Linked DNA regions of Homo sapiens: regions 1, 2 and 3 are each linked to region 4. The links come from fine-mapping of genetic effects on gene expression. A gene starts in region 4. Each other region holds a variant in brackets. All regions are shown on one strand. Distances are from middle to middle. Region 1 overlaps PER3 (period circadian regulator 3). Region 2 overlaps PER3 (period circadian regulator 3). Region 3 holds the start of UTS2 (urotensin 2). Region 4 holds the start of PER3 (period circadian regulator 3).

The links. PIP is the estimated chance that this variant, and not a neighbour inherited with it, causes the effect.
Region 1: its variant is fine-mapped to the expression of PER3 in lymphoblastoid cells (TwinsUK, PIP 0.95).
Region 2: its variant is fine-mapped to the expression of PER3 in blood mononuclear cells (TOPMed, PIP 0.96).
Region 3: its variant is fine-mapped to the expression of PER3 in whole blood (Lepik 2017, PIP 0.95).

Annotation. Positions count from the first base shown.
Region 1 is chr1:7,815,386-7,823,492 of GRCh38, forward strand. PER3 (period circadian regulator 3) reads left to right here. Exons shown (of 22, transcript NM_001377275.1): 14 at 3,900-4,035; 15 at 4,730-4,854; 16 at 5,082-5,255. All of the region lies in intron 1 of LOC124903833 (a long non-coding RNA gene), which reads right to left. Among named protein-coding and RNA genes, the nearest start is that of UTS2, 34 kb to the right of the region's middle. The variant A/AT (reference allele first, on the strand shown) is at 4,407.
Region 2 is chr1:7,835,267-7,843,373 of GRCh38, forward strand. It overlaps PER3 (period circadian regulator 3), which reads left to right. Exons shown (of 22, transcript NM_001377275.1): 20 at 496-679; 21 at 1,733-1,883; 22 at 7,406-8,107. The coding sequence ends at 7,489. Among named protein-coding and RNA genes, the nearest start is that of UTS2, 14 kb to the right of the region's middle. The variant G/A (reference allele first, on the strand shown) is at 3,412.
Region 3 is chr1:7,852,956-7,861,062 of GRCh38, forward strand. It overlaps UTS2 (urotensin 2), which reads right to left and starts at 110. Exons shown (of 4, transcript NM_006786.4): 1 at 1-110. The coding sequence starts at 48. RefSeq lists an enhancer at 1-318. The variant G/A (reference allele first, on the strand shown) is at 4,810.
Region 4 is chr1:7,779,588-7,787,685 of GRCh38, forward strand. It overlaps PER3 (period circadian regulator 3), which reads left to right and starts at 4,704. Exons shown (of 22, transcript NM_001377275.1): 1 at 4,704-4,789; 2 at 5,067-5,418; 3 at 5,854-5,999; 4 at 7,134-7,249. The coding sequence starts at 5,291. VAMP3 (vesicle associated membrane protein 3) reads left to right here. Exons shown (of 5, transcript NM_004781.4): 5 at 39-1,845. The coding sequence ends at 58. RefSeq lists a silencer at 4,170-4,779.

The DNA.
Region 1 (8,107 bases), 36 kb after region 4:
TATACCATGCTAACACAGAAGAAAGCGGGAAGCTGTATTATTACACAAAGTAAACTTCAGAACAAGGAATGTTAGTAGAGTTAGAAAGAGAGACTGTGTAACAGATAAAGGAGTTGATTCCTTAGGAACATAGAACAGTCTTACATGTTTATGTATCTAATATCAGAGCTGTTTATTCTCTAGCCATAATGGATTAAACTAGAAATCAGTAACAGAGGTATCCAGAAAATCCTCAAATGTTCAGAAATTAAATAACTTCATACTTACAAATAATCCACAGGTCAGAGAGGAAGTTTCAAGGGAAATAAAAACATTTTGGGCCGGGCGCAGTGGCTCACGCCTGTAATCCCAGCACTTTAGGGGGCCGAGGTGGGCAGATCACAAGATAAGGAGATCGAGACCATCCTGGCTAACACGGTGAAACTCTGTCTCGACTAAAAATACAAAAAAAAAAAAAATTAGCCAGGCATAGTGGCACACACCTGCAGTCCCAGCTACTCAGGAGGCTGAGGCAGGAGAATTGCGTGAACCCAGGAGGTGGAACTTGCAGTGAGCCAAGATCCCACCACTGCACTCCAGCCTGGGCGACAGAGCGGACTCCGTCTCAAAAAAAAAAAAAAAAAAAAAAAAAATTGAATTGAACAAAATGAAAAGAGAACATAAAATATGTGGGATATACCTAAAACACTGCTTAAAGGGAAATTTACAGCACTGAGTGTTTATATGGAAAAAAGAAGAATGGTCTCGACTCAGTAATCTAAGCTTCCTCCTTAAAAATAAGAGAAAAAAGAACAAATTGTTTCACAAGTAAGCAATAAGAAGGAAATAATAAAGACCAGATATCAATGGAATTGAAGAGAAACTAAGTTAAATCAAAGGGTAATAAAATTAATAAGTCTTTAGCCATACTGAACAAAAGAAAAGAAAGGAAGGACAGGTTGGACTTTATCAAAATTTAAAACTTCTCCTTTTTGAAAGAGACTGATAACTATGGCCATACCACCCTGAACGTACCCAATCTTATCTGAAAGGCACTGATAAGACAAATGAAAAGACAAAATAGTTGCAAATGATATATACAATAATGAAGTTATATCCAGTGTACATAAAGAACGCTCAAAACTCAAGAAGACAACCCAATTAGAAACATTTTTCCAAAGAAGATACATAAACAGTAAATAGCATATGAAAAGATGCTGAACCTAAGTCATTAGACAAAAAAAATGTAAACCATATGAGATAACACCACACATCTGTGAGAATGGCTAAGTTTTTTTAAAAAACTGACAAGTGTTGACAAGGACACAGAGTGACCAGAGCACTCACCTATTGTTGGAGGTAATGCCAAATTGTACAGCCACTTTGGGAAAGTTTGACATTTCCCATAAAGTTAGACATACTCTTACCATGTAACTTAGCAATTCTATTCCTAGTGATTTACCCAACTGAAATAGAAACTTAAGTTCACGCAAAAACCTGTACATGAATATTTATTACACTGTTACTCTCCAAACACAGAAACAACCCAAATGTCATTCAGCAGGAGAATGGATAAGCTATGTGTATCCACACAGTGAAATGCTACTTAACGGTGAAGAGAAATGAACTTGATTCACAGACCATTGTATATATAAATCTTAAATACATTTCATTAAGTGAAAGAAGGCAGAACCAAAAGGTTACATATTGTACAATTCCATTCTGGAAAAGCGTTCTTTCTGGAATGCTCTAGCTCTGGAAAACAGATCAGTATTTACTATGATTGGGTAGAGAAGGAGGTGACTACAGAGGGACAGCTGTAAGGACATTTTTAAGTCATGGAAATGTTCTTTTGGTTACTGTGGTGATGGATACACAACTTTCCGTGCATTTGCCAAAACCCACAGATTTGTGCACTCCATCTCACCCCAAAATGCAGAGAGAACCCAAGATGAGATGCAGGCATTGACAACTGAGTCCAACTGCATTACAGATGACAGGCCTAAACACACGGAAGGGGTGGGGAAGAACGGAGCTCAGTAGCTTTGGAAAACAGTGCTTCAACTGTATCTCCTAGGGCTAAATACAAAATTATGAATGTGCACAAACACTGTACGCAAGTTGGTGTATTCGTTTCCCACCAGAGTATGGGTTAGCAATTCTAAAGCGACTTTATACTAGGGTTGAACAAATTGTGGAAGCCGCTATAGATAACGATGACCAGACTCCTCACTATCAGGAAAGCCACACAAAGCAGAAGGGAAGGAACTCCATGGTGCTGGATTGGCGCGAACAGTTTCAGTGTGGACTCATGCCCCTTTTGTTTAATATACAGAGGGATGGATAGACACGGGTTAGTATATTATACCAAATAAAGAATAAAACAGATGGTTCAGGCAAAGATTATCAAGGAATGAAATAGAGGTGAAAGGTTAATGGAGAACTTAAACTTTGAGAAGTTTAAAAGAAACAGAATACTTGCGTGATCTCAAAGTATTCCTCCAAAACATATTATTTATTACATTGTAAAATAGTAACTTTACACAGGACAAACAAACCTGAGAGACACCATGTTAACCAATGAACAAGGTAACAAAACATACTGACATCATGTACCCTGGGATGATGCACAAGGAAGGACACTGCACCTCCGCCGCATTCTCTCCCCAAATGCATAACCTCAATCTAATCATGAGAAGACATCAGAGAAACTCAAATCGAAGGCCATCCCACTAAAGTTCTGACCCTGAACGGAAAACAACATTGAGTGGTAAACTGATAAAATCCAAAGAAGGTCTGTTTTCCAGTTAGTAGAATGGTACCACTGTTCATTTCCTAGTTGGGGTCATTTTATTATGGTTGTAGACCATGGTAACATTAGTGGAAGCTGGGTGATGGGCATATAGGAACTCTATTGTACTATTTTTGCAACTCTTCAAGTCTAAAATTATTTCAAAATTAAAAGTTAAAAATCATTAATGAGTGAAAGGTAATACAGTCATTTTTCCATAATATGCTCTGAAAATAGAGAAGCCTCTTCCAAGCCAGCTAAAAATGACCAGCATCTAACACTTCTACAAAACTTCTCAGTAGTACATGACATAATTAGTTACTCCTTCCTTAAGAAAGTTTTCATTCTTGGTCGCTGTGAGGCCAAACCTTGCAGGATTTTCTGTTATCTTTCCAGCTACCCTTTTTCAGTCTCCTTTATTGGCTCATTGTCCTTTATAGGAAGTTTTTAGTGCTTAAGCCTGGAGGTTTTTTCTTCTCTCTAAACTACTACATCTACAATGGTGGCCACTTGCCACATGTGGCAATTTAAATTCAAATTCAATACAATTAAATGTAATACAATTAACATTTAGTTTCTCAGTTGCTTTAGCCATATTCCAAGTGTTTAATAGTTACGTTAGCACATATAATACTAGTCAGCACAAATAATCCATCAGTCATCACAGAAAGTTCTGTTGGACACAGGCTCCACCTGGGAGATGCTGTGTACTTCACACAGCATCACGTAAGATGCACAGGTCTTCCCACATTCCACCCTTAGTGATTGCCAGGGTTGATCAGTTGTACAGGAAGCGTCAGCTTAACATTGGAAAGCTCCCCATCAACCTTAAACCTATGGTTTCATTCCTTGATAATCTTTGTTGGAAATTTTTGTTTCATTCCTTATTTTTCTAAATACAATCGTAGCCATTCTATGTGTAATGTGCTCTGCACCTTATTTTATTCATTACGTGTTGTGGATATCTTTCTATTAGTGCATTTTAGATCTGCACTCATTTTTAATAGCCGCATGATATTCTGTTGATATATACATGATAAAGTGCCATGATTTAATTTTGGTAAGAAAGTATATGTTCTTAATTACATGCTGGGTACTTTTAATTGCACATCCCTTTATTCTGTTTCAGGTGAATGTAAGACCTTTACTTCCTTCCACCAAACACTGAAAAACAATAGTGTGTACACTGAGCCCTGTGAGGATTTGAGGAACGATGAGCACAGCCCATCCTATCAACAGATCAACTGTATCGACAGTGTCATCAGGTATGAGACCGCAAGTTTGGATACCATGTAAGTCTGTTCCGGAAGCATACACTGCCACTGTAGAGACTTCATAGAATTTTTAATAGCTGCTCTGACTTGGTTTTTCACTATAAATCAGTAGACGTTTATGGCGTGCCTAACACATACGCTGAACATTTCAGAAGGCACAAAAAGCTAGAAGATGCATTCCTTCTTTGAAGGAACTGTGGTATAGTTCAGAAGACAAGACCTAATTTTGTCAAAATTAAATGGTGTAAGGCAAGCTTCTCCAACCCATGGCCCACAGGCTGCATGTGGCACAGGACAGCTTTGAGTGCAGCCCAACACAAGTATGTAAACTTTCTTAAAACGTTATGAGATTTTTTTGTGTG[A/AT]TTTTTTTTTTTTTTTAGTTCGTCAGTTATGATTAGTATTAGTGTATTTTATGTGTGGCCTAAGACAATTATTCTTCTTCCAGTGTGGCCCAGGGAAGCCAAAAGATTGGACACCCATGGTATAAGATTTGAAGGTTAATTCAAGACCACAGTAAAAGAAATGTTACAATCCAGTGATTGAGGCTGGGATGGTCAGGGAAGACTTTATCAAAGAAGAAAGTACAAAGTATGCCAAACATAAGTGGCATGAGAAAAGCAAAGAGGTGGGAAATGGCACAATTAGGGAACAGGTAAGAATGTGTGGCCTAATTATGTTGTTACAGATACCTGAAGAGCTACAACATTCCAGCTTTGAAAAGAAAGTGTATCTCCTGTACAAATACAACTTCTTCCTCCTCAGAAGAAGACAAACAGAACCACAAGGCAGATGATGTCCAAGCCTTACAAGGTAACAAGAATGCCCCTCAGAGTTAAATTCAAAGAACTGTAAATACATCCTTCTTGTTTCTCTTTAATGTCTTATATTGTTATAAGCATAAAATTCTGGTTTCATATTACCTCTTTATGACAGTAAGGTTTAATTTCTCAGTTACAAACTTCTGTAAACTGGGTCTTTTATGTAAATTTCTCGTTGGGAATTTTTCTTTTCACTGTCAGTTTCTCTTACACCACCAGCTGGTTTGCAAATCCCAGCCATACCTAAATCAGAAATGCCAACAAATGGACGGTCCATAGACACAGGAGGAGGAGCTCCACAGATCCTGTCCACGGCGATGCTGAGCTTGGGGTCGGGCATAAGCCAATGCGGTTACAGCAGCACCATTGTCCATGTCCCACCCCCAGAGACAGGTACCACACTCGCCTCTTACTTTGAAAATATACTCAACTTTAACTACATTGTGATGAGAAAACAAAAGTCATGAATACCATTCGCTCGGTTGTAACTTCTAAACTACACATATTTTTTCCTTTCTTTAGTTCAGTTAAAGTATTTCTGGAAACATTATCATGTTTATGTTGGTTACATATTTTGGACAGTATTTCTCAGTTATGTTATTTGTCAATGAAATCAGTTGACACATATAAAGCACTTAATACAGTACCTAGTAGGTAGGTATTAGCCCTCAATTAGTGTTAGCCATTATTAATGCAATTATTGATGGCACTGTGTTAGGTTACTTCCTTGCTGACTTTCACAGAATGTGTTCCTTTCACCTGCATTTCACCATCCTGTATTGTGATGAGCTCAGTCACACATACCTTCAGATTTTTGTATTGCTGTGATGGCAATGAATAGAGTACTTTAAAACTCTTCATTTAATACCATAATTTCTTGGTAAATTATTCTACTGTCTTCTTATTCCTCTTTATTGCCACTTGTCCTTTTGACATTTTCATCACTCATAACAATTTGGGTAGATGAAGGAATGGTGACAAATACGTTAAATTGGGTTTTCACATGATCTCTGCTTTATCTTTGCTAGTCTTCAGTGGCTTATCAGCTAATACGTGTTAAGCCATTTCTGTGTGCCACTGTCTGCTCTTAGTTCTTCACTGGTATGATCTCATTAAATCTTTCCAACAACCTGTGAGATGGAGAGTGTGGTACTGACAGGAGATCTGTGGATTGGTGGAGAAAGATCAGAGAGCATTACGTTTCTAATTAGTCAAAAGTAGAGTTTCACTGGAACTGAGCTAGCCCCTCCACAGAGGAGCATATGCACATTTTTTAGTGTGCCTTTTAATATTTTGCATTCCTGTGTGGGCATGTAGCTGTTCATAATACAGCCCATACAGGAAGGGAGGGTATCACCCAATATGAAAAGCTCTTTTTTTTATATTCTGCCACTCTGCTTTCTATACTCTGCTCTTATATGACCGTTTTTAATGAATTTATACTAAAGTCTATATGCTTTAGGAAATTTTTACTGCTATTAGTTTCTTCTGATCTTAAATCAGCCTCAACATTTACAGGGCCACATCTTTATTCCATGGAGAAAAAGCAGAATCAGAGCCCAGATATTCCTTAAAACATATCTCTATGTCTTTTGCTTTCTGAAAAGCTCATATTCATTAGCTCAGTTTGCATCCTGACTCAGATGAGTTGTGTCTAAGGACGATGGTCACAAATGCATTTCCTTGCAAGTTAATGTCTTCATTTTATGTGTGGAACAATTAAACCACAAATTAGGCACAGTAACTTCACTTGCCCAATATGACACAGCCCATGAGTAGTAGAGTAGGGAATCAAGTATTGACCATTAGTCTCTAGGAGTCGTTGCCATTACAGATACTTTGAACCTAAAGCAGGGTCTAATTAAGATGGAATGTAGGCCAGGCACAGTGGCTCATGCCTATAACCCCAGCATTTTGGGAGGCCAAGACAGGAGGATTGTTTGAATGCAGGAGTTTGAGACCAGCTTGGGCAACATGGTGAGACTCTGTCTACAAAAAATTTAAAAAAAAATTTTTTTTTTTTTTTGAGAAGGAGTCTTGCTCTGTCACCCAGGCTGGTGTGCAGTGGTGCGATCTCAGCTCACTACAGCCTCCACCTCCCGGATTCAAGCGATTCTCCTGCTTCAGCCTCCCAAATAGCTGGGATTACAGGCCCCGCCACCATGCCCAGCTAATTTTTGTATTTTTAGTAGAGATGATATCACCATGTTGGCCAGGCTGGTCTCGAACTCCGGACCTCAGGTGATCCGCCCACCTTGGCCTCCCAAAGTGCTGGGATTACAGGCGTGAGCCACAGCGTCCAGCCCTAAAATAATTTTTTAAAAGATGGAATATGAGATACAATGACTAAGCCAATCAATAAAATGCAAATTTAAAATAAACTCAATCCCAAAGAAGAGCAGGAAAGGAGGAATAGATTAACAAAAAAGAAGCAGAGAGAACAAACCAAATAAGATAATAGCTCTGCATGCAGCTATGTCAATAATGACATAAAATTGACTCAACACTTCAATTAAAAGGCAAAAATTGGGCCAAGCATAGTGGTTCACAACTGTAACCCCAGGGACTCAGGAGGCCAAGGAGGTAAGATTGCTTGAGGCCAGGAGTTTGAGACCAGCCTGGGCAATACAGTGAAACCCCATCTCTACAAAAAATGTTTAAATTAGCCAAGTGTGGTGACCCACACCTGTAGTCCCAGCTACTTGGGAGGCTGAGACAGGAGGATCAATTGAGCCTAGCTTGAGCTCATCTTGGGTTCGTTGCTACAGTGAGTTCTGATCACATTACTGTACTCCAGCTGAGGGACAGAGCAAGACCCTGTCTCTAAAAATAAGTAAATACATGAAAGGCAAAAATTCTCAAAACAGATTTTTAAAAATCAAGACCTAACTATATGCAAAGTACAAGTGAAATTCACAAATGGATTGAAAGTAAATGAATGGAAAAAGATGCACAAGTGAAACCGTAAGCATCAGAAGGCTGCAGTGCCTTATTAATATATGTAAAATAGATTCCAGGACATCTTTTCATAATGACAAGGTGGTCAATTCATCAGGAAGACATAACAGTCATAAATGTATATTCATTAATAACAGCTTTGAAAGCTATGAAGCAGCCGGGCGTGGTGGTTCACGCCTGTAATCCCAGCACTTTGGGAGGCCAAGGCGGGCGGATCACCTGAGGTCAGGAGTTTGAGACCAGCCTGACCAACACGGAGAAACCCCATCTTTACTAAAAATACAAAA
Region 2 (8,107 bases), 56 kb after region 4:
TTTGGCGACTTGGGTTTAGGTAAGAACAAAGTCAATAATTGGCTTTATTGGAGTTGGCATTTTGACAGTTATGAAAAGTCAGAGGGAAAAAGAAGTCTAAGGTATTGCAAGGTGTGTTACTGAATGATGAACTGAGGACTCCACTACAGGAAGACTAAGACGTTATTAACACATTTATAGTTGAAATAATTGAACAAGCCCATGAGAGAGTGAAGCTGAGATGTTGATGATTTTGGAGATGGAGCGGTTATGGGTGATGATAAAGGACAATGTGTGTAGCCTTGAGAGTGATAGCTCATTAGGAATGGAAAAAGAGATCTCAGGAAGACCAAAGAACCAGGAGGCTGTCCACAGGGAGGAGGAAGTTTCCCGGAAATGATGGTTGGGCTGGCTGAGGAGGAGGACTGTCCGAGGCAAGAGTCTGAAGAATGAGAGCCAGTTTGGCAAATCAGTCGGACAGGTCTTTTCTAATTATGTGTTGTTGATTTTTGACAGGAAGCAGCGACAGCAGTATATACCTTACTAGTAGTGTTTATTCTTCTAAAATCTCCCAAAATGGGCAGCAATCTCAGGACGTACAGAAAAAAGAAACATTTCCTAATGTCGCCGAAGAGCCCATCTGGAGAATGATACGGCAGACACCTGAGCGCATTCTCATGACATACCAGGTACCTGAGAGGTAAGAAAGCACTTTAGAAAACCCACTTTTTATATTTTTGTGGTTTCTTTTTTTCTTTTTTTTCTTTTTTGAGACGGAGTCTCGCCCTGTCACCCAGGCTGGAGTGCAGTGGCACGATCTCAGCACACTGCAACCTCCATCTCCTGGGTTCAAGCGATTCTTCTGCCTCAGCCTCCCGAGTAGCTGGAATTATAGATGTGCACCACCATGCGTGTCTAATTTTTGTATTTTTAGTAGAGACGGGGTTTGTTTGTGACAGAGTCTCACTCTGTCGCCCAGGCTGGAGTGCCGTGGTGCCATCTCGGCTCACTACAACCTCCACCTCCCAGGTTCAAGATTCTCCTGCCTCAGCCTCCCAAGTAGTTGGGATTACAGGTATGCACCACCACACCAAGCTAGTTTTTTGTATTTTTAGTAGAGATGGAATTTCCTCATGTTGGCCAGGTTGATCTTGAACTCCTGGCCTCAGGTGATCTGCCCACCTCGGCCTCCCAAAGTGCTGGGATTACAGGCGTGAGCCACTGCACCCGGCCTATGGTTTCTTAATGTGTTTTTAAAGACAAAATAATTATTGAATGTTTTATAAATTCCCTTTGAGAAATGTGTCTTCAAATTTATTCATTTGAAGTCAAGTGATGAATGATTTCTTAAAATAAGGGTGGCAGTGGTAATGTTACCTCTATTCAGATCCAGACTAAACAGATCTTACACATCATGAGACAAAGAAACAAAGTCTGTGCTTTCCAAGATGGCACACAAGTACAAGAACTTTTTGTTTTAGACTCTTGATTTTTTTGCCCCTTCTAAAAAGAGCTAAGGGAAATCTCTTTCTTCCATACACCTCATTAAAACATCATATAGATATTTTCCACCAAGAAAAAAGCCTTTACCAACTTGAAAAGGAAATGATCTAGTTATTTTTTTAATGTATGCCTCATGTGTTAGAAAATGTAAGGTGTATTACCAACCAAGAAGAAGTGCTATTCCTAGATGACGGGAAAAGAACCCTGTGTCTTATTCAGGACTATTAAGATTCTGTTTGTTTGTTTTCAGGGTTAAAGAAGTTGTACTAAAAGAAGACCTGGAAAAGCTAGAAAGTATGAGGCAGCAGCAGCCCCAGTTTTCTCATGGGCAAAAGGAGGAGCTGGCTAAGGTGTATAATTGGATTCAAAGCCAGACTGTCACTCAAGAAATCGACATTCAAGTAAGCACAGTAATAATGGCTGTCATATACTCATGTATTTTGGCCAGGTAGTGCTTTTAATATAGGTCGTGTTCTTGCATGATCCCACTAAAAACTTTAATCCTCACAGTTTACCTCTATGGTAGGTGTTATTATTCCCTCTTTACCAATAAGCAACAAGCAGGTTATACACATGTGAAATAATTAATACAAGGCCATGCAGTTCATTGGGTTTTGAATACAGGTCTTTTTGCCTCCAGGTGGTTTTTTCTTCTACCAGTTGGAATGTTAGGGTACGATAAAGAGTAAAAACACCTGCTTTGATGTGTGATTGACTGCATTTGATAGGTCATTTGTTATGTATTTCAAATATGTCTGCATTGTTTGAAAAGAGTTAAAAAAAGATGTAAGATTCACACCAGAGGTAGTATTCATACTAAGCAGAAACTTTAATGGGACTTAAGTGTCTTTTTGCTGTTATGAGTTCTTCTCAATGAGATTATTTGTGAATAGCCTGAACAGTAAAGCTTTGATTTACCAATGGTCCCAACCAGTGTTGGTGGCAGCTGTGGTAATGGTAGTGATGGTTGTACTAGTAGTGAGATCTTTATTCCCGCAAGTATCAAGATATGGGAGGTTGAAGAGTCAAGTTAATAACAAGTAGGCCTAGTCCAGTGGCTCACGTCTGTAATCCCAGCACTTTGGGAGGCCAAGGTGAGAGGATCAGGAGTTGGAGACCACGCTGGGCAGCATAGCCAAACCTCATCTCTAATAAAAATCAAAACAATTAGCCAGGTGTGGTGGCGTGCACCTATAGTCCCAACTACTCAGGAGGTTGAGGCAGGAGGATTGCTTGAGCCTGGGAAATTGAGGCTACAGTGAGCTATGATCTCGCCAGTGCATTCCAGCCAGTCTCAAAAAAGACAAATAATTCGTGTGTGTGTGTGTGTAAAAATATTTTTAAAAAAGAGAGTAAAGTTAGGTGTTAAAGTATGATATTAAGGCTTATGAAGTAAGCAAGACAATGAAATCCTACTACCCCCTCTTTTTAAAAACTAACATTTTTATTGTGGTATAATACACATAACATGGAATTTACCTTCTGAACTATTTTTAAGTATATAATTCAAGAATATTAAATATTTTCACATTATGCAACCATCACCACCATCCATCTCCAGAACTCTCTTCATTTTGCAAAACTGAAACTCTGTACCCATTTAACAATAACTTCCCCATTCCTCCTTCTCCCAACCCTTTGCAACCACTGGTCTACTTTCTCTTTTTTCTTTTTTTTTGAGACAAAGTTTTGCTCTCTTGCCCACGCTGGAGTGCAGTGGTGTGATCTTGGCTCACTGCAACCTCTGCCTCCCAGGTTCAAGTGATTCTCCTGCCTCAGCCTCCAGAGTAGGTGGGATTGCAGGCGCACACCACCATGCCCAGCTAATTTTTGTAGAAATGGGGTTTCCCCATGTTGGCCAGGCTGGTCTCAAACTCCTGACCTCAAGTAATCTGCCCGCCTCAGCCTCTCAAAGTGCTGGGATTACAG[G/A]CAAGAGCCATATGAATTTGACTACTCTGCACACCTCATATGAGTGGAATCATACATTATTTGTCTTGGTGTGACTGACTTACAGACGTACCTACTCTCTTGGTTACTATCTGCATGTAGTAACTTTTTACATCCTTTCACTTTCAACCTATCTGTATCTAGATCTAAAGTGAGTAGGCAGCATATATCTGAATAGTGCCTTTCAAAATCGGTTCAGTCAATCTCTGTCTTTTGATTGGAGAATTTAGCCCATTTACATTTAAAGTAATTACTGGTAAAGAAGGACTTACTTGTGGCATTTTGCTATTTGTTTTCTATGTGCCATAAAGATTTTTTTTTCCCTCATTTGCTGCATTACTGTCATCTTTTGTGTTTAGTTGGTTTTTTGAAGTGAAATGTAATGCCCTGCTCATTTCCTGTTGTGTATATTGTGTAGCTATTTTCATTGCGATAACCATGGGGATTACGTTTAGCATTCTAACATATCACTCCAGTGTGTAATTTATACCAGCTTAACTTTGATAACCTACAAAAACTCGCTTCTGTAGAGCTCCATCTCCATCTTCTTTCAGTTACTGAAGTTATGAAATTAGGTTTTTATACGTTGTGTTTCCAAAAACATAATTATTTTTATGCATTAATCTATTAAATAATATAGAAAGCAAAATATGAGATTACAAATCAAAGTTAAAATAATACTGGATTTTATAGACTACTAGTTTTCTTTGAATGTATTAGTTTCTTAAATCATGTAGAAAACAAAAAGTGGAATTGCACATTGTCGTTGCAATCATAATATTTACCTTCGCTGAGATCTCTATTTCTTCACACAGCTTCAGGTTACTGTCAGTGTCCTTTCATTTCAACCCTGCAGGACTCCTGTTAGCATTTCTTGGATGGTAGGTCTAGTGGTATCAAACTCCCTGGCTTTTGTTTGTCTGGGAATGTCTTCACTTCTCCCTTACTTTTGGCCAAAGGATTTCTTAGTTGACAGTTTTTTTTCTTTAAGCACTTTGAATACACTGGGACACTGCCCTCTGGCCTCCACAGTTTCTGATGAGATATCTGCTGATAATCTTATCGAGAATCTCCTGCATGTGTGAGTTGCTTCTCCCTTGCTGCTTTTAAGATTATCTTTGTCTTTGACTGCACGGTATTTAATTATAGTGTGGATCTCCGAGTTCTGAGTACATCCTAGTTGGAGTTCATTTAGCCTCTTGGACTTTTACATTCATGTTTTTCATCAAACTTGGGGAGTTTTCAGCCATTATTTTTTCGAATAATCTTTCTGCCTCTTTCTCTTTTTCTTCCTCTGGGGCCCCTGTAGTGCTTATGTTGGTCCACTCGATGGTTTCCCACATGTCCTCCAGGCCCTGTTGACTTTTCTTCAGTCTTTTTTCTTTCTGTTCGTCGGACTTGACAGTTTCAATTGTCCGGTCTTCATACGTGTATTCTTTCTTCTGCCTGCTTAGATCGGCTTTTGAATCCCTCTAGTGAATTTTTCATTTCAGTTTTGTACTTTTTATTTATGGAATTTCTTTCTGGCTTCTTTTTAGGTTTACTATCTCTTTATTGATATTTACATTGTTTGTACATTGTTTTCTTGATTTTGCTCCATGTCTTTCTTTAATTCTTTCATCATCTTTTTCTTTTTTCTATTTTTTTTTTTAGACAAGGTCTCACTCTGTCACCCAGGCTGGAGTGCAGTGGCATGATCATGGCTCACTGCAGCCTCAGTCTCCTGGGCTCAAGCAATCCTCCCACCTCAGCCTCCCGAGTAGCTAGCACACACCACCATGCCCAGCTAATTTTTTAATTTTCGTAGAGATGGAGTTTTGCCACTTTGCCCAGGCTGGTCTTGAACTCTTGAGCTCAAGCAGTCCACCTGCCTCAGCCACCCAAAGTGCTAGGATTATAGGTATGAGCCACCGCACCCAGCTTTTTCTTTTTCTTTCTTTTTTTTAAGACAGTCTCACTTTGTCATCCAGGCTGGAGTGCAGTGGTATGATCACAGTTCACTGCAGCCTCTACCTCCTGGTCCCAAGTGATCCTCTCAAGTAGCTGGGACTGCAAGTGTGTACCACCATGCCTGGCTAATTTTTTTTTTTTTCCCAGAGATGGAGCCTCACTCTGTTGCCCAGTCTGGTCTTGAACTCCTGGGCTCAAGCCATCCACCTGCCTCAGCCTTCCAAAGTGCTGGGATTACAGGCGTGAGCCACTGTGCCCTACCAGTTCTTTGATCATCTTTCAGTTGTTTTAAAATCTTTGTCTCGCAATTCTTTCATCTGGTCTTTCTCAGAGACTTTTGCTATTGGTTTATTTTTCCCTTTGAATGGCCTATACCAAGGGTGTCCAATCTTTTGGCTTCCCTGGGCCACATTGTAAGAAGAAGAATTGTCTTGGGCCACACATAAAGTATACTAACACTAACAATAGTTAATGAGCTAAAAAATAATAAATCACTAAAAAAAACTCAAAATGTTTTAAGAAAGTTTATGAATTTGTGTTGGGCCACATTCAAAGCCATCCTGGGCCGCATGTGGCCCATGGGCAGGAAGGGGGTCGCACAAGCTGGGGCTGTACTTTGGCGTTTCTTTGTATGCCTTAATGATTTTTTTTTTTTTTGGTTGAAAACTAGACATTTGAATCTAATAACATAGTAATTCTGGAAACCAGATTCTCCCCTTTCCCAGGGCTTATTGATTCTTGTTTTATGATTGTTGGAAGACGGGGTCCTTATTGCCCACTCTGACTCCCACAAGCTGTGTGCAGGCTGCTCCAGGAATACGTGCCTTGTCCAAGGTCAGGGATGGGTAGTTGCTGCTGTGCTTCAAGCTGAAATTGACCACAGGCAACCACAGCTTACCGTCTAAGCATTTCCTAGAAAGTTGCAGGCGTTCAGATAGACTCGAGTTCCAAATAGTTACCTCGGACTCATTTTGTCAGTCCAGTTGTTGTCTAGGTGAGGAGACAGAGTCCTAGTCTTCCTACTCTGCCATCTTCCCAGAATAATCTCCCCATCTCCATTTTCAAAGAAAAGAATGAGTGTCTGTCATGTAAGAATGGCTGGGTAGGGTCTCACCAAAAAGCAGGAGCTGGGCTGGTTATTGTAAGTGTCTTTGTTTTTTTCAGTGTTGTTCTGGTTGTAAATAGACAGGTATATGAAAAATGAGCCCCACAGCAATTTAAACAAAAGCACAGTCCTTTCACCACTTAGTAATGGGGATGTTTTGTGCAAGCGTCCTAGAGTGTACTCATACAAACCTCAGTGGAGTAGCTTGCTACAATCACTCCTAGGCCCTATGGGACAGCCTTTTGATCCTAGGCTACAAACCTGTACAGCTGTTACTGTCCTGAATACTGTAGGCCGTTGTAACACAGTGTTACTTGTGTATCTAAACATAGAAAAGGTACCATAAAAATGTGGTAGGATAATCTTACAAGACCACCATTATATATGCAGTCTGTTTTTGACCGAAACGTCATGTGGCACATGACTGTATTTAAACAATTTGTCATTTGCCTTTTAATAATAAAGAATGAGGCTGGGCGCGGTGTCTACTACCTGTAATCTCAGCAGTTTGGGAGGCCAAGGTGGGCGGATCACGAGGTCAGGGGTTCAAGACCAGCCTGGCCAACATAATGAAACCCTATCTCTACTAAAAAACAAAAATTAGCTGGGCGCGGTGGTGGGCACCTGTGGTCCCAGCTACTTGGGAGGCTGAGGCAAGAGAATCGCTTGAACCTGGGAGGCGGAGGTTGCAGTGAGCTGAGATCGCACCACTGCATTCCAGCCTGGGTGACACCGCAAGACTCTGTCTCAAAAAAAAAAATAAAAATAGTTATAATAATAATAAAGAATGAACTATAATGAAATATTTTCAGACATGAATAAGTTGGGGATTTAGAAACATGTGACCAGCCTTTTACTGTTTTAAAACTCTTTAGGTGACATTGACATCAAGTAACTCGCCTGCTTTGTTCTTTTTTGGAGGCCTGTGTCACTTGTGAAAATGAAGATTCAGCTGATGGTGCGGCCACATCCTGTGGTCAGGTTCTGGTAGAAGACAGCTGTTGAGTGACTGTGAGGATGAACCTTCATACCCTTTCCAAGACGTGTTACACAGACAGACCTTTTTAAGTCCTGGACTTTTAAATGACCATGAAGTTATCATTGAATGTTAAGATTTTTTCTTCTTGATTTTTTAATACACGTAATCTTTTTGAAGCAGACATTGTATACAGAATCTTACTTCTCTTTGTTCCTGATATATTAAAATGGCCAGTTAGGCTCTTTTTGTAGTTGAATTGTCTTCTAAAGAGATTGGATGGCCTCTAAAGAGGTATGTGTATCTTTATTTCAGATGTCACCCAGAGTAAATTATAATTAGAAGTATAGCTAGAATGAGCCCCAAACCTTAGCCTCATTTATTTTGTTCTGTTACATAAGTCATTTTCCCCTTAGAGTGCTTGAAGAAATGCCACCTACAGGTTGTGTACTTTTCATAATGGTTTCCATGAATGTAGTACGTTCATACAGGCTTCATTCAACCTGGCGTTCCCCTCCATAATTAAGATGAAACATTCCGGTTTTCTCACAACACATTAGCACATACTGTCCATTAGCATATCTGGGATAACCAGGTTTTGGGGGTTGAGTTTTGGCCTTCATCCTTGTAGATCCCTTTCCTATTGA
Region 3 (8,107 bases), 73 kb after region 4:
ATTTAAGAATCCTATGAAAAGCAAACAGCAGGAGGCCAGCTTATACATGATCGCCACAAGATAGACGGCTTCCTTCTTGGCTTCTGTTGTAGAGAACTTTCAACTGTCTCCTCATTCTGCCTGCTCACTGATTATATATATCATCCTATGACCTGACATCATCCTCTCCAAAAAAAAAAAAAAAATGAATTTATTGGCTATGGAGGCTAAAAGGCAATCACTTTGCATTGATGTAATTTTTCAAGGTAACAAGTCATAGACAATAAATTAACTGTCTTGTTGCCTAGTGTACAAAGTAGGTATTATATAAAGAACAGTGAGTTTATAAATCTGGCAAAAGAGGCAACTTACAGCAATAAATCATGAATTAAAGGAAGGCTTGGATATGAGTTGAAGTGGCCAAAGCAAAGAGACGTGGATTTATGAGTCCGAGCAGAAGTGACGCAGAGCATAAGATGAAATACGTTGGTTTCCATTTTTTAATCTTTCATGAGTGAGTAGATGAGTTGCCATGCTGTGTTTAGGGCTGCCATCCCTGAAGAATGACAATCTGTGGATTAAAACGTAAAACCAGCTATTTCCTTTAAAACAGTGAAAAGTTAAAATACATAGCAAACATTGCTCCAGGCTCAAGACAATTCTGTACATACACGTGGCCTCATGTGAAGCCGCAAGCACTTCAATCTTCAGAGAAAGGAAATAACTTCATAAAGTTGATTATTATTCAGCAAGGAGGGAGGAAGGACTTAACACCAGAAAACTCGCTGATAAACATTTCCAGAATGTGGCCTCTACTCCCAACTGTACTCTGCCCAAGCTGGTCCAAGCCCGGATGGGTGGAAAGGTCCCCGACAGGCGTCCTGAAGTCTGCCTTCGGGCCTGCCACAGGCTCAGCACAGCAGAGTGATGCCAGAAGCATCTGCATAAGTCAGATCATGGTAGTTCTTTGCTCAAAACTTTCTGTGGACCTAAACACAAAAGTTACAAAGATAGGCCAGGCACGGTGGCTCATGCCTGTAATTTCAGCACTTTGAGAGGCCGAGGCAGGAGGATCACTTGAGTTTAGGATTTCAAGACCAGCCTGGGCAACATAGAGAAACACTGTCTCGGCCGGGTGCAGTGGCTCACGCCTGTAATCCCAGCACTTTGGGAGGCTGAGGCGGATGGATCACGAGGTCAGGAGTTTGAGACCAGCCTGACCAACATGGTGAAACCCCGTCTCTACTAAAAATACAAAAATTAGCCAGGCATGGTGGCACGTGCCTGTAATCCCAGCTACTCAGGAGGCTGAGGCAGGAGAATTGCTTGAATCCAGGAGGCGGAGGGTGCAGTGAGCCAAGATTGCGCCACAGCAGTCCAGCCTGGGTGACAGAGCGAGACTCTGTCTAAAAAAAAAAAAAAAGAGAAGGAGAAACACTGTCTCTACCAAAAATACAACAATTAACCAGGTGTGGTGGTGCATGCCTGTATCACTTGAGCCTGGGAAGTTGAGGCTGCAGTGAGCCAAGATCGTCCCACTGCACTCCAGCCTGGGTGACAGAGCGAGACCATGTCTCAAAAAAAAAAAAAAAAAGAAGAAAGAAAAGTGGTTACAACGTAATGATAGAACTACTAGGGGAAAAAACATGAACACCTTCACAACCTCAGGTTAGGCAAATATTTCTTAGACAAGACACAAATCACACAGGAAAAAAATTGAGACAGGAGGAATAAGTTCAAGAGATCTATGTACCTCAGGGTGACTCTGATTAATAACAATGTATAGTTGAAGATTTCTAAAAATCGATTTTGTGTTCTCATCACAAAAAAATGCTAAAAACGTGAAGTAATACACATGCGAATTAGCTTGATTCAGCCATTCCACAATGTATGCATATATCAAAACATCAAACTAATAACAATAATAATAATAATAATAATCATGGCCAGGCACAGTGGCTCACACCTGTAATCCCAGCACTTTGGGAGGCCGAGGCAGGTGGATCACCTGAGGTCAGGAGCTCAAGACCAGCCTGGCCAATGTGGTGAAACCCTGTCTCCACTAAAAATACAAAAATTAGCTGGGCGTGGTGGCAGGTGCCTGTAGTCCCAGCTACTTGGGAGGCTGAGGCAGGAGAATTGCTTGAACCTGGGAGGCAGAGGTTGCAGTGAGCCAAAATCACACCACTGCACTCCAGCCTGGGTGGCAAGAGCAAAACTCCTTCTCAAAACAAACAAACAAGTCATGATGTATACCATAGATACCATTTTTGTAAATTAATCAATAGATGAACAAAACTGATAAATTGGACTTTATCAAAATTAGAAACATTTGCTCAAGATACTGGTAAGAAAATGAAAAAGCCGAGCAAGGCGCGGTGGCTCACGCCTATAATCCCAGCATTTTGGGAGGCTGAGGCGGGCAGATCACCTGAGGTCAAGAGTTTGAGACAAGCCTGGCCAACATGGTGAAACCCTGTCTCTACAGAAGATAAAAGAATTAGCCAGGCGTGGTGGCGGGCCCCTGTAGTCACAGCTACTCCGGAGGCTGAGGCAGGAGGATAGCTTCAACCTGGGAGTCGGAGGTTGCAGTGAGCTGAGATCATGCTGCTGTATTCCAGCCTGGGCAATATGACAAAAGGTTTGAAAAGGACTTCAGGCTGGTCTTGACCTCCTGGCCTTAAGTGATCCACCTGCCTCAGCCTCCCAAAGTGCTGGGATTACAGGTGTGAGCCACCACATCTGGCCATTATTATTATTATTATTATTATTATTTTATTATTTTGAGACAGGATCTCACTCTGTCACCCAGGCTGGAGTTCAGTGGCGTGATCATGACTCACTGTAGCCTTGACCTCCCAGGCTCAAGCAATTCTACCTTGGCCTTCCAAATAGCTGGAACCACAGGCACATGCCACCACGCTCAGCTAGTTTTTTTTTTTTCAGATGGGGTCTCAATGTGTTGCCCAGGCTGGTCTCAAAATCTTAACCTCAAGCAATCCTCCTGCCTCAGCCTCAGCCTTCCAACCCTCTGGGATTACAGGCGCAAACCACCATGCATGGCTTTTTTATTTTTTGTACAGACAGGGTCTTGCTATGTTGCCCAGGCTGGCCTCAAACTCCTGGGCTCCAGAGATTCTCCTGCCTCGGCCCCCGGAAGTGCTGGGATTCCAGGTGTGAGCCTCCACACCTGGCTATCGCACTATTTTATGTATTTATCCTTTATAGTAGGCAGACTCGATAAATATTTGTTGAATCAGTGAGTGGGGCACCAGCCTATGGGAGTCTCTGTTTAGGGGAAAGAACGGTGAACAAAATAAAAAGTTTCTACTCTCATGAACTTTCTGACTGGAGGCGATAGACAACAACATTAACATACGCTGTAGGAATTGTTTATTGCTATGAAGAACAATAACAAGGAGACAGTACAGGGGCAGGTAGTCAGGGCAAGTGTGATTTCAGACAGGGCCCTCGGGATGCCCTGGAAAAGGGGCATCTGAGCAGGAGCCGAAAGGAACAGGGCAGCCATCCGTTCAGTGGTGAGTGGAGTGTGGAGCCTCCAGCGAGAGAAGTCGGGGAAGCGTGGCCTCCGAGGAGGAGGAACTGAAAGAAGATTCCTGCGAGGGCAAATAAAGTGAAGAGAGTCCCTGGGGGACCCCTGCTGGCAGGAGAGCCCAGGGCGAGTGCTCGCACACTGTCCTCTAAGATGGAAAGTGCTCGAATCACTTAAGACTTGTTAACTCTTTCGACAGATATTTCTCAGCACCCCCATGTGCCAGCAGGGTCGGACAGAGGACGGAACCTAACGTCCAAGAGAAACCACTTCCATCCAATTTAAGAAAACAGCCGGGCACGGTGGCTCAGACTTGTAAGCCCAGCACTTTGGGGGGCCGAGGCAGGTGCATCACCTGAGGCCAGGCGTTTGAGACCAGCCTGGCCAATATGGTGAAACCCCATCTCTACTAAAAATACAAAAATTAGCCGGGAGTAGTGGTGGGCGCCTATGATCCCAGCTACTTGGGAGGCTAAGGCAGGAGAATTGCTTGAACCCAGGAGGTGGGGGTTGCAGTGAGCCGAGATCGTGCCATTGCACTCCAGCCTGGGCCACAAAGGAAGACTCTGTAGGAAAAGAAAGAGAGAGAGAGAGGGAAGGAAGGAAGGAAGAAAAGGAATGAAGGAAGGAAGGAAGGAAGGAAGGAAGGAAGGAAGGTGAAGCATGTTGGAAAGACACTGGATAGCTTCCAGAATCCCAGGAAAAGTGGAGGAGCAGGGACCAGGATCCCACTGGCCTTCTGACCTCTGCCCTCTGCCCTCAGTGACTTGACTCCTCCCTCTTCCCTCCTTCCTCTCCCTACTCACCCTTGCTCTCCCCACAATCCTCCATCTCTCCTGTAATTCAACCTTTTGGCCTCAATGCCCTAAATAAGTGCATTAAGTATCAAAATGTAATTTTGGTAACCATTAAAATAGTAACCAAAAGATTATAAAAACTTGGAAAATATAATAAAAGAACTAGAATATCAGGTAGTTACTACTATGTTAAAAAAAAAAAAAGATGAGCTTGTGGGCAAGCACTGGTGGTGTCATTTTACAGAATTGAAAATAAAGGGATTTTTTTCTTTTCTTAAAATGTTTTGATGCAGCATGGTGGCTCCCACCTGTAATCCTAGCACTTTGGGAGGTTGAGGCAGGAAGATTGCCAAACCCAGGAGTTTGAGACAAGCCTAGGCAACCTAGTGAGACCCTGTCTCTACAAAAAATACAAAACTTAGCCAGGAGTAGTTGTGCACCTGTGGTCTGGGCCACTTGGGAGGCTGAGGTGGGAGGATC[G/A]CCTGAGCCTGGGAGGTTGAGGTTGCAGTGAGCCGTGATCATGCCATTGCACTCCAGCCTGGGCAACAGAGTGAGACCCAGTCTCCAGAAAAAAAAAAAAAAAAAAGCTGTTTTACATTGTCTGTCTGTGTATTACATGTGCATGTTTATGCTCATGCATGTTTATATATATGTAAAGCACTCATGAAGTCTCACAAAGAGGAAGGACGGACTCAGGCCAAGAGACAGGGGTCTTTGAAGACCCGTGAGGACCATTTCAAAATGAGGTGGGAGATGAACTCTGGGGCTCCAAGGAAGAGGCTGTTTGCCAAGCTTTGTCATTCCCTGGTGACTCAGGGGGTACTTCTGACAGTTATTAGTGATGGTTTTACAGCATGGCCTAATTAAATTACTACTAAAGGCTTACGCTTAAAAGAAAATTAGCTTCTTTCCTTCAACAGACCATCAATGACAGTGTCACCTTGTCCCAGAAATGTACTGAGCACGTCATTCCACGCTAATGGCCCTTGCATTAAGCAGCATGGCTTCACATCTGTGCCAGGACATACATGAACAAAGACCACCCTGAGAAGTGGGATTCCTCTAATTAGCTGCAAACAAAGTAACTTCTGAAAAGAGAGGGGCATTGTCTGCGTGTCATAAAGAAGTAAACCATTAATATTTGGGATGGCTTTGTCTATGGAGCACTCCCATCCACTGGATAAGCATATCATAAAAATTACAAACCTCTTTTCAGTTTTAGTTTTGAAATTAATCTAAACTCCCTCTCCCTGATGACACGTTTGTCGTTGTATAATATGCTCATAACTTCTATTAATTATTTTTTTTTTGACACAGAGTCTCACTCTGTCGCCCAGGCTGGAGTGCAGTGGTGCGATCTCAGCTTACTGCAACCACCACCTCCAGGGTTCAAGCAAGTCCCTATTCTCACGCTTCAGCCTCCCAAGTAGCTGGGATTACAGGCATGCACCACCACACTCAGCTAATTTTTGTATCTTCAGTAGAGATGGTGTTTCACCATGTTCACCAGGCTGGTCTCAAACTCCTAGCCTCAAGTGATCCACTTGCCTCAGCCTCCTATAGTGATGGGATTACAGTGTGAGCCACCACGCCCAGCTGGTCATAACTTCTGAATATGAGGTTACATTGATTCTCCTCGGTTGTGGGGATTCCATGAAGAGAAATTGATAGGAATTGACTTTGCCAAATATTTAAAGCCTATTCACTGATTGCCAAATAAATATCATAATTTGGGGTGATCTGTGAGGAATATGTTTGTGTGTGCTTTGAATACTGCAATGTTTGTACCATTTTTATGCGCAGACTTGGGTCCAGAGAAGTTGAGGATACCTGAAACCAGGGCAGCTCATATTCAACTGACATTGAACTTCTGAACTTCCTGCAGACATCATCGGGGTCCATTCTTACTTGTGTTCATGTAAAACATAGGTTAGAGGCTCTCAGATAGACTTTTAATTTATATTAATTAAAATTAATTAAAATTTTAATTTAATCTAATCTACATGAATTCTAGATTTCGTTTCTAGTCACCTATATTTCAGATAACCATTTGGCTTAAGTGACTACTGAATGCCTCGTCTGTCAGCTGCAGCAATAACCCCTGAGGGGGTCACAGGCCCCGTGCTGGTCCCCTCAAGAGATAGTGGGGAGAATGGTGGGGACTTCACAGGAGAGGCTCTTTTCCTGCAGAGGGTCAGCATAGGCTTGCAGGAAATGTGGAGAGGGCCTCGAAGCTATCTGAGAGGAAGAGCCTCCAGGCAGACGGAACAGTGAGTGCAAAGGCCCTGGGGTCAGATGAGGGATCAGCCTGAGCCATGCGCCCAGCATGTTTGCCAAGGGCTGGACACAGCCAGATAAAACCAGAGATCAGTGGGGCTATGTCACGTGACCATATCGAGGAATTCGGGGTTTTGTCATTTACCAGCAATGAGGAGCCTGGGCATGGCTCATGCCTGTCATCTCAGCACTTTGAGAGGCCACGGCAGGCAGATCACTTGAGCCCAGGAGTTCAGTACCAGTCTTGGCAACATGGTAAAACCCTGTCTCTACAAAAAATATGAAAAATTAGCCAGGCATGGTTGCATGCACCTGTAGTCCCAGCTACTTAGGAGGCTGAGGAGAGAGGATGGCCTGATCCCAGGAGGCGGAGGCTGCAGTGAGCCAAGATTGCACCACTGCACTCCAGCTTAGGCGACAGAGCGAGATCCTGTCTAAAAAAAAATGCATACATATATATATAGCAATGAGGAGACGACAAGGGTGTTTGTTGAACAGTGAGTAATGTTATTCTCTCACTCATTCAACGAACATTGAGCATGTGCCAGGGACTGTGTAGGGTACTAGGGATGTAGCAATGACCAAAACAGACCAAGCCTCACCGAGTTTATGTTCAGTGTCAGGTGCTGATCAATGCCACAGATAACTAAGTAGGTTCAGGTGGGCGATGGGATGGACGGGCTCTTTTCCTGGAGAGGGTCAGCGTAGGCTTGCAGGAAACGTGGAGAGAGCCTCACAGCTAGCTGAGAGAAAGAGCCTCCAGGCAGATGGAACAGCGAGTGCCAAGGCCCTGGGGTGGGACTGTATTAGGCCTGTTTGAGGAACAGCCAGGAGGCCCGTGTGGTTCAGTGTGATCAAAGGGGAGAAGTGTGGGAGTTGAGGCCAGAAAGATGCAGAAGGGCAGGTCACACAGGCTCCGGAAGCCACCGTAAGGACTTTCTGTTTTAAAATGAGATAGGAGGTCCATTTTGAAGAACAGTATGGCACAATCTAAACTGTGTTTTATTTCTATTATTATTATTTTTCGAGACAGGGCCTCACTCTGTTGCCCAGGCTGGAGCACAGTGGTGCAATCACTAATCACTGCAGCCTCAAATGCCTGGCTCAAGCCATCCTCCTGCCTCGGCCTCCCAAGGTGCTGGGATTACAGGCATGAGCCACCATGGTCGGACTAAATTATGTTTAAAAGGCTCAGTCCGGGCTGGGCCTGGTGGCTTACACCTGTAATCCCAGAACTTTGGGAGGCCAAGGCAGGAGGATCACTTGAGATCAGGAGTTCGAGACCAGCCTGGCCAACATGGTGAAACCCTGTCTGACTAAAAATACAAAAACTAGCTGGGCATGGTGGTGGACACCTGGAATTCCAGCTACTCGGGAGGCTGAGGTATGAGAATTGCTTGAACCTGTGAGGCAGAAGTTGCACTGAGCCGAGATCACACTACTGCACTCTAGCCTGGGTGACAGAGCAAGGCCTTATCTCAAAAAAAAAAAAAAAAAAAAG
Region 4 (8,098 bases):
TGTTTCCCCTGCCTTTTTGCATCTCTCCTCCTTCTTAGTGTGGGTTGTCTCTTCATGAAGAACCAGCGGAACTCAAAACTGCTGTTCAAGAAACCTCTTCAAGACTTTTGACTTAGAACCTGCTATATTATCAAGCTTACCTACTGTTATCTCTAAAATTTTTTTTGTGTTAATGTAAAGTTGAATTTCTAGGAAACGTGCCTTTGTTTTTTAATATGCACTCCAAATTAGAAGGCCGGCCCCGTCCACATTTTGCACAGTGCCTTTACAGATTTACGTATGGGCTGATGAAGAGGCCTTCTTAAGTTCCAGAGTGCTATAATCTAGATGTAATGTTGTCACTAATTAATTGCCATTACTCCCAGTTAGTTACCCTTGTCATTTGGCATTATTTTCAGAACCACATTTTAAACCTTTGGGTAATCAGATTTCCAACTTATGCCTTCCAGAAAAAAACACTACTGCCTAACACAAATCTGTGATAACAACAGGCTGTGCCTTATTTTGATAATTTTCTGATTCCCTAGAAGAGAACCCTCTACTTTTTGTAAGCACTACTGACTCTCGCTGTATTTAAGATGCTGGTGAAGAGCTTTTGCTCTTGCATTAGATTTGAAGATGTTTACATTGTTGTTATTGTTATGTATCACTTGCTAAAAATATTGTTTTAATCAGAGATAACCTCTTTAAAAAAATTTTTAAAGAACTATGGCTATGACCAAAGCTTCTATTTTGCCAAAAAGTTAAATACCGATAAAATGGCCTTAAGTGTATTCCTGACAGTTAAATTCAGAAACGTGCCAAATGGAACTCAAGGTGCCCCTTCAGAATTAAAATCATTACCTTGTGTGTGAACCTTCTACATCTTCATAGGCCTTTCTTCCTTTTGAAAGGCTGTAGACAGTGTGGCTCCCCTTCTGATTCAGTATTTTGCATGGGGGTTAGAGAAGGTTTGAGGTAGACTCTGACCGTCTCATAAAAGAGTTCTACCCAGCAGTTGGCAGATTATCAGCTGTGGACTCCAGCATGTTTCTGATAATTATGCAAGCAACAATTCTGTAGCCTCAAGTAAGACCACCTGTGAACTTGATCATTATCTGGCCCAAATATGAAGATAAACTATAACTTTGGAGTTTGTTTCCTATTTGTATTCACATTCTGCTTCCTAAATCAGTTTTCTAAATTATGCCTGCAATTAGGCATTGGTCAGGGGTGAATGGCTCTTTTCACAGAGAGTAGCCAACCAGAGACCTTTGCTTTGATATCATCAACTGCAGAGAATGCTGTTGATGGGAATGCTGGAAGCAGAAACTTTGTCATCGGAAAAACTTTTCTTGTATGCATGAGACTCAACATCAGGATCCACAGCTTAAAGATGGGAATTCAGGTATGAAAGAAAACAGGCAAGGAGGCACTGAGGGAGAAAGACACAGACTTTATCGCTCTGTGGCTCATTGTTACTGGAATATTCTAAAACTCTTGTTCACATGCTATTATGACTTATAAAGCAGCAACAGCTGAGGCGCACCAGGACACAGCTTCCATTTCTTTAACGTCTGTTCCCTTAACATCGCTGAAATGATTTACTGTTGAAGAGATGCCTTGCGGTGTGGCCAGCTGTGAGGAGAAAGCAGCTGGCAGTGTTAGGACATTAGTCCACCTTCAGCGCAGGGTCTCTGGCCGGGTCTGACTCAGAAACCTTGGTACTCGCCCCTTGGCCACAGTGCCCAGACCCATGTAACCCACTGGCTCCTGCATTAACCCAGAAATACCTCGCTTCTATCTGTGCACTTAGCTGGGAACTTACCCACTGTAATCACCTAAATAAAGTGTTTATAAACATGATTGTGGCACCTGTGCTCCTTGTAGAGGAATAGCTGCACCTGGTCCGAGTCCTAAAAATGCCATTCCTTGCTGCTCCCCATACCTGTCCCTTAGAAGCCCCGAAACTGTCTCCCCCTTTTCTCACCAGCCCCTCTCTAGGTACTCTACCCTTTTGGTACCCAGCATTTCCGCATACCCCAGTGAACAGAAGAAAACCGCTCCCCTTGTGAAAAGTGCTTTTTAGTATAGGCGATGAGGAGGAAACTGGCTTTTACACAATTACCAAAATTCAGGATGTGGCTTTGGAGTTCCCTAAATAGATGGTCTTTCTAAAGTGATGTGCAGAGCCGACCCCGTCTGTGGTAGACTAGATGGCTGCTGGCATGGACCCTGGGATAGATGAGTGGATAGGTGAGGGACATCCCCAGACACATGGCTCTGTTCCTGTAGATCCTTTTTTCCTCATGAATGTATTTCCATTCTTATCGTAGAACCCCTAGGAAACAATATAATACGGGTGGAAGAGGACTTTTGCTTATGTTTACAATAGGAAAATCCAAGTCCCTTTCCCGAATTACAGGTCCCACGATGATCTGGTCCTTTCTAGTTTTCTGACTTCATGTCACACGACTCTCCAGCTCTCTCTTCTCCAAGCAAGGTACTCCACCAAAGTATAGCTGTTGACATCGGAGAGACTTGTGCCCATGAGACTTTCAACATCAGGGTGTGGCTTGAAGGCCAGAGTTAGCTATGAATGAAAACAGGCAAGGAAGCCCTGAGGGAGAAATGGACCTGATAAAGTTTGTTTCGGTTTCTCATCAGCAAACTGACTTCTTTCCAAAGGTCTTCTGCAGGTACTTTCAGCTCTGCCGGGTCTACTTCCTCACCCGCGGCAGGCGCCTCTCATCTCAGGTTGAAATCCGCCTTCCCCACTCGCGGCAGGCGCCTCTCATCTCAGGTTGAAATCCGCCTTCCCAGAGGCCTGCCCTGCTGATCTGACTAAGCAGGCTCTGGCCTCCCCACTCCACCTTTCTCCCAGTTACTCTTCCTTCCAGTAGTTTGTTTTCTACACATCGCTTTAGGCTTTATGAACTTGTTTATGGGGTTGTTTGTATGGCTTTCTCAATAAAACGTCAACTCCCTGGGTGGCAGGGACTTTGGGCCACTGTTCTATCCGCTGGGATTCCAAGCGTCCCTACCCAGATCTGCACGCAATAAATGCTTGCTGAACGAATGCAGTTTGACAAAACCCAGCTTCGGAGGAGAGCAAGCCAACCTAGAGTATCGCTTGGAAGATATAAGGTGGTTTATTCAATACCTAACATGAACACTCACCTCACTTTTCCCCTCTTCCTTTACATACAATTTCATCCATCCAACAAATACTGAATATTTTTTCTGTACCAGGCAGCGAAGAGGGGCGGCACTCTGCACTGTACCTTTCATTTCTAACATGTTGAGATACTAAACTGAGCTTTCAGACATTTTTTTTAAAGGGCTCTACAACTTCTTTTCTGAAACAGAGTGTCTTTTACGTTTGTCTTCCTCCAGTTGCCAAATGAATCTAATTTTAGGAAGTGCAGGGAAGTGTTTTAAGTTCCACCGTCAAAATTCTGTTTCTGGGCCGGTGCAGTGGCTCACGCCAGTAATCCCAACATTTTGGGAGACCGAGGCCAGCAGATCACTGGGGCTTAGGAGTTTGAGAACAGCCTGGCTAACACAGACCATCTTTACCAAAAACACAAAAATTAGCCAGGTGTGGTGGCTGCACCTGTAGTTCCAGCTACTCGGGAGGCTGAAGCAGGAAACTGGCTTGAGCCCAGAAGACGGAGGTTGCAGTGAGCCAAAATCGCGCCACTGCACTCCATCCAGCCTGGACAACAGAGCAAAACCCTGTCTCAAAAAATAAAAAATCTGTTTCTAAAAATCGGGTGGGCTTTTTACCAGGGCTGCTTTATGGCCCGGTTCCTCCAAGTCCACCCCACTCACCGAAAGAGTTAGCGGAGGATGGGGGCGGTTGGGGTGGGCTCGGTAGGTCACGGGCGGTGAAAACCGTGGGAACCCAGAAAGACGGCCAAAGCACGATGAGGACCGCTGCCGGCAGCCCGCCCCACCCTGGGCTCCTCCCCACACCCGCTCGGGCAGCCGGGAGCCACCTACAAACTCCAGGACTCGACCCCAGAGCGCTGGCCTGAGCCGCCCCTGCTCGCCCCCAGTCCCCGCCTCTCCCTCCCTCTAATGCCCCCGCCCTCGACACCGTCGCCCCCCCGCCCCTGCCTCTCGCTCCCCACGTCTCTCGGCACCCCCGCTCCCATCCGCCCCCCCGTCCCCGCCTCTCGCCCCCATCCGTCCCCATTTCCAGCCTCCCCCTGACCCCGACTCAAGCCCCCCGACTCCGCCTCTCGCCCCTCTCTGCCCCCGCCTCTCACTCCCCTCTCCTTCCCCGCCCGCCTCTCACGTGGAGGTTGGGCCGGACCCGCCCCGCCCCACAGAGCCCGGGTCCCGCCCCCACGTGGCTGGCAGCTTCCTGGCCCTATCATTTCTGCGCTGGCTTCAGCGGCTCCGCCCCGGCGCCGTGCCAGGGGGCCGGACACTCCAGTCGCGCGGCACAGGCCTGAGGCCGCTGAGGGCCACCCCGTCCCCTGCCCGCCCGCCGGCCTGCTGGGATTGGCCGAGCGCCGGCCTCCGCCCGAGCCCGCGCGTTATGTAACGCGCCCCGGGGGCCCCGCCCCCTCGCCCTGGCTTATATAACCCGGGCGCACCGGCTCGCGCCCCGCCCCAGGGCCAATGGAGGCCTGCGGAGTCGGCCCCGACGACCAATCGCACGGCCCGGGGGCGGGACCGGTCACGCGGCGGCAGGGGGCGCGGCGCCGGCTGCTGACCGGCACGCGGCGAGCCTCGAGACTGCGCGAGGGCGGCCCCGGGGGCGAGCGGCTGTGCGCGGGGCCAAGGGCGGGGGCAGCAGGTGAGTGCGCGGCCGGGCGGGAGTTCTGGGCGGCCGGGCGGGAGTTCTGGGCACTCGCGCGCGGCAGAGGAGCCCCGCGAGCCCTGCCCTCGGTACTGGGGGCCCCCGGAGCGTGGCGCTTCCGAGCCACCCGCCTCCCCGGGCCCCATCCCTCGGCGCGCGGGAAAGTTGGGGCAGGGGTGAGGACCGCGCGGTCGGGGCGCCCCAGCCAGCCGGGCCGCTGGCGTCGGACTGTCTGTTCCATTTGTCCCTTGTCACCCTTGTCTCCTCCCCCTAGGCCGGAGTCCTGAAAGTCGAGCGAGCTCCGGGTTTTGAAAATGTTGGAGGGAAAAGCTCCTCGGAGATGAGCGTGACCCCCTGGCTCGTGGTGGCCGCCTGTTCTCACTAACGCCATGGCGGGGACCGGAGTGAGAAACCGGTGTCTGTCACTGACTGCAAAGTGAGCGAGAAGCAGGCTGCGGGCCGTCCCAGCACGACGTGGAGCCCCGCGGAGACCTCGAGATGCCCCGCGGGGAAGCTCCTGGCCCCGGGAGACGGGGGGCTAAGGACGAGGCCCTGGGCGAAGAATCGGGGGAGCGGTGGAGCCCCGAGTTCCATCTGCAGAGGAAATTGGCGGACAGCAGCCACAGGTGACGCGCTGGCTTCAGGCCGAGGGCCCCATGCGTTCGTTGTCCTTCCCTGGAGCAGGGAAAGGGGGACCTAAATCTTTTTATTCTTTTGTTTTCAAGCCCAGGGGAAAGTGTAAAGGGGAGACTCGGGCAATGTAGGATGAAGTGATCCGTGACACTGAAGAAAATTACCGAAGAGTATCAGGAGGGAAAAGTGGTTACAAAAGTTAGCTGAGTTGGGGCTCAAGTGGATTAAGGGAAAGTAAGTGGAGAATGTTTGTCATTCACCAGTTGCTTTGCCTCGAGTTCCCCACCTAGAGGAAGAGGGGTCACCACCCTGTGGACTGATGCCGGTAGAGCACTTAGAAACTTACCTGGCTTGCAGTTTGTGTTCCCTAAGCCGCAAGATGCTGTTGTCTTCAGAGGATGAAGTTGTAATTTTTTTTTATCTTCCAGTGAACAGCAAGATCGAAACAGAGTTTCTGAAGAACTTATCATGGTTGTCCAAGAAATGAAAAAATACTTCCCCTCGGAGAGACGCAATAAACCAAGCACTCTAGATGCCCTCAACTATGCTCTCCGCTGTGTCCACAGCGTTCAAGGTAAACAAGCCGGAGAGAAATTTCATCCTACGAATGCACCAGGACTCATACAAGCAGCCAGAGGAGTGGTCAGTGGGGTCTCAGTCAGACAAATAATTTGAGCTTTTTCTGGTGCTTTGTGGAAGATGAGCAAATCTACACCGATTCCATTCGTGTCTTAATTGTTCACATGTGAAAGACCAGGAAAACTTTATCTGTATAATAGTGTATAATACCTATGCAATGTTTTGCTCATGTGTTGCAAGAGAGTAGAGTTTAGCATAAGCACATTTTGAAGGCTGACCTTTTAAAGAAATATTGTCTTCTATGGAAGTTATGGGAAAAAAATGCATTCCACGAAATAGTTACCTTTACATGCCGTACACATACTTTCAAAATGCAGTAATGAGGCTGGGCGCGGTGCCTCACGCCTGTAATCCCAGCACTTTGGGAGGCCGAGGCGGGCAGATCACGAGGTCAGGAGATCGAGACCATCCTGGCTAATACGGTGAAACCCCGTCTCTACTAAAAATACAAAAAATTAGCCGGGTGTGGTGGCGGGCGCCTGTAGTCCAGCTATTCGGGAGGCTGAGACAGGAGAACGGCGTGAACCCGGGAGGCGGAGCTTGCAGTGAGCCGAGATCACGCCACTGCACTCCCGCCTGGGTGACAGAGCGAGACTCTGTCTCTAAAAAATAATAATGATAAAAATGCAGTAATGATATATCAGGAATTTACCAAACTAAAAATGAACCATTGTAAACACTTTTTCTCTCTGACATTTCCAGGGATTTCATTAAAGCCATATTCTCTTTAGCACAAACCTCAGTGCTTCATATATGATATGTTCCTGAATGACAGAGTACTGTTTCTGCTCCCCCCGCAAAAAAATTGTGTATGCATCTGAAATTTTTAGTTAGTACCTTAAATGTATCTTGCTTCCTGTGATCCAGAACATGCAGAATTCATAAAATCAAATCTTAAGTTTGCACAACTATCAGTATTTTAGGTAAAAGCAGAAAATGATCTGTTTTTGAGAAAAATGCACTGAGGTGTTCTCATCCGAAAAAAATAATCCAGCTTGATAGTGATGAAATGGTTTCCTAAAGATACTGTTGTCACTGGACTACCTGTTTATCTCCCTGTGTTTCTTAGCAAACAGTGAGTTTTTCCAGATTCTCAGTCAGAATGGAGCACCTCAGGCAGATGTGAGCATGTACAGTCTTGAGGAGCTGGCCACTATCGCTTCAGAACACACTTCCAAAAACACAGTAAGAATTCATGCATTTTGCCATATCAACCTGGGTGACTTTTCCTAAGGGCCTGCTCTAGATGTAGGCTTTTAAGAAGGATAACAACGTTTCAGCAACCACAATTTGAGAGAAGCAAAGGAGGAACTGCTAAAGAGGCATGGTGTAGCTTCTCCGCCCTTGCCAGAGAAAACATCTAAAAGCAGAAGCAGCCCGTTCTGTGTGCTGTGCAGCTCAGTGACTTTGGTTATGAGGTGCTTCTAGCTCCTTAGCATTCCCAAGCTCTCTTGAATTAAGAGAAAACAAAAATTACACTGCAGAGTAATTTCCTGCACCTTATTCTAATCTCCGAATTGTTAATTTCTATTTATATCATTCTTAGTTCCAATACCTACTACTTCAAGTTGTAACAACTGGATGTTATAGAACAGGTGAGTTGAGATGCTGTCATTTTTCCTAAAATTTTGGAAGAGACCTTTAGTATATCTTTTTTAATCTCTCTTCTTGTTTGACAGAGTAATCTTCATGTTTGGTTGATACGGTGGAGATTACTTATTTTAAGTAACATAATTGTTACTTAAAGATTTTGTAATAGTGGAACGTGCGCAATCCCTAGTATTATAACAGTGCTTATTTTATGGACTGGTGTGTACATAGTACTGTAGGAGGTGCTATGGAGATTTTTAAAAATAGCTTAAGAAAATATTTGTCTTTTAAGATATTTAAAATAAAGCTAGAGAGGAAAGTATGCCAATGCTAGCAAACACAAACTGCTGATTATAAATAAGTTTCATTTATGTGTAATGGAAAAAATTAGAGCAGTGATGCTTATGTAATGAGGTTTGTCAAGGACAGCTTCTTGAAGAAGGT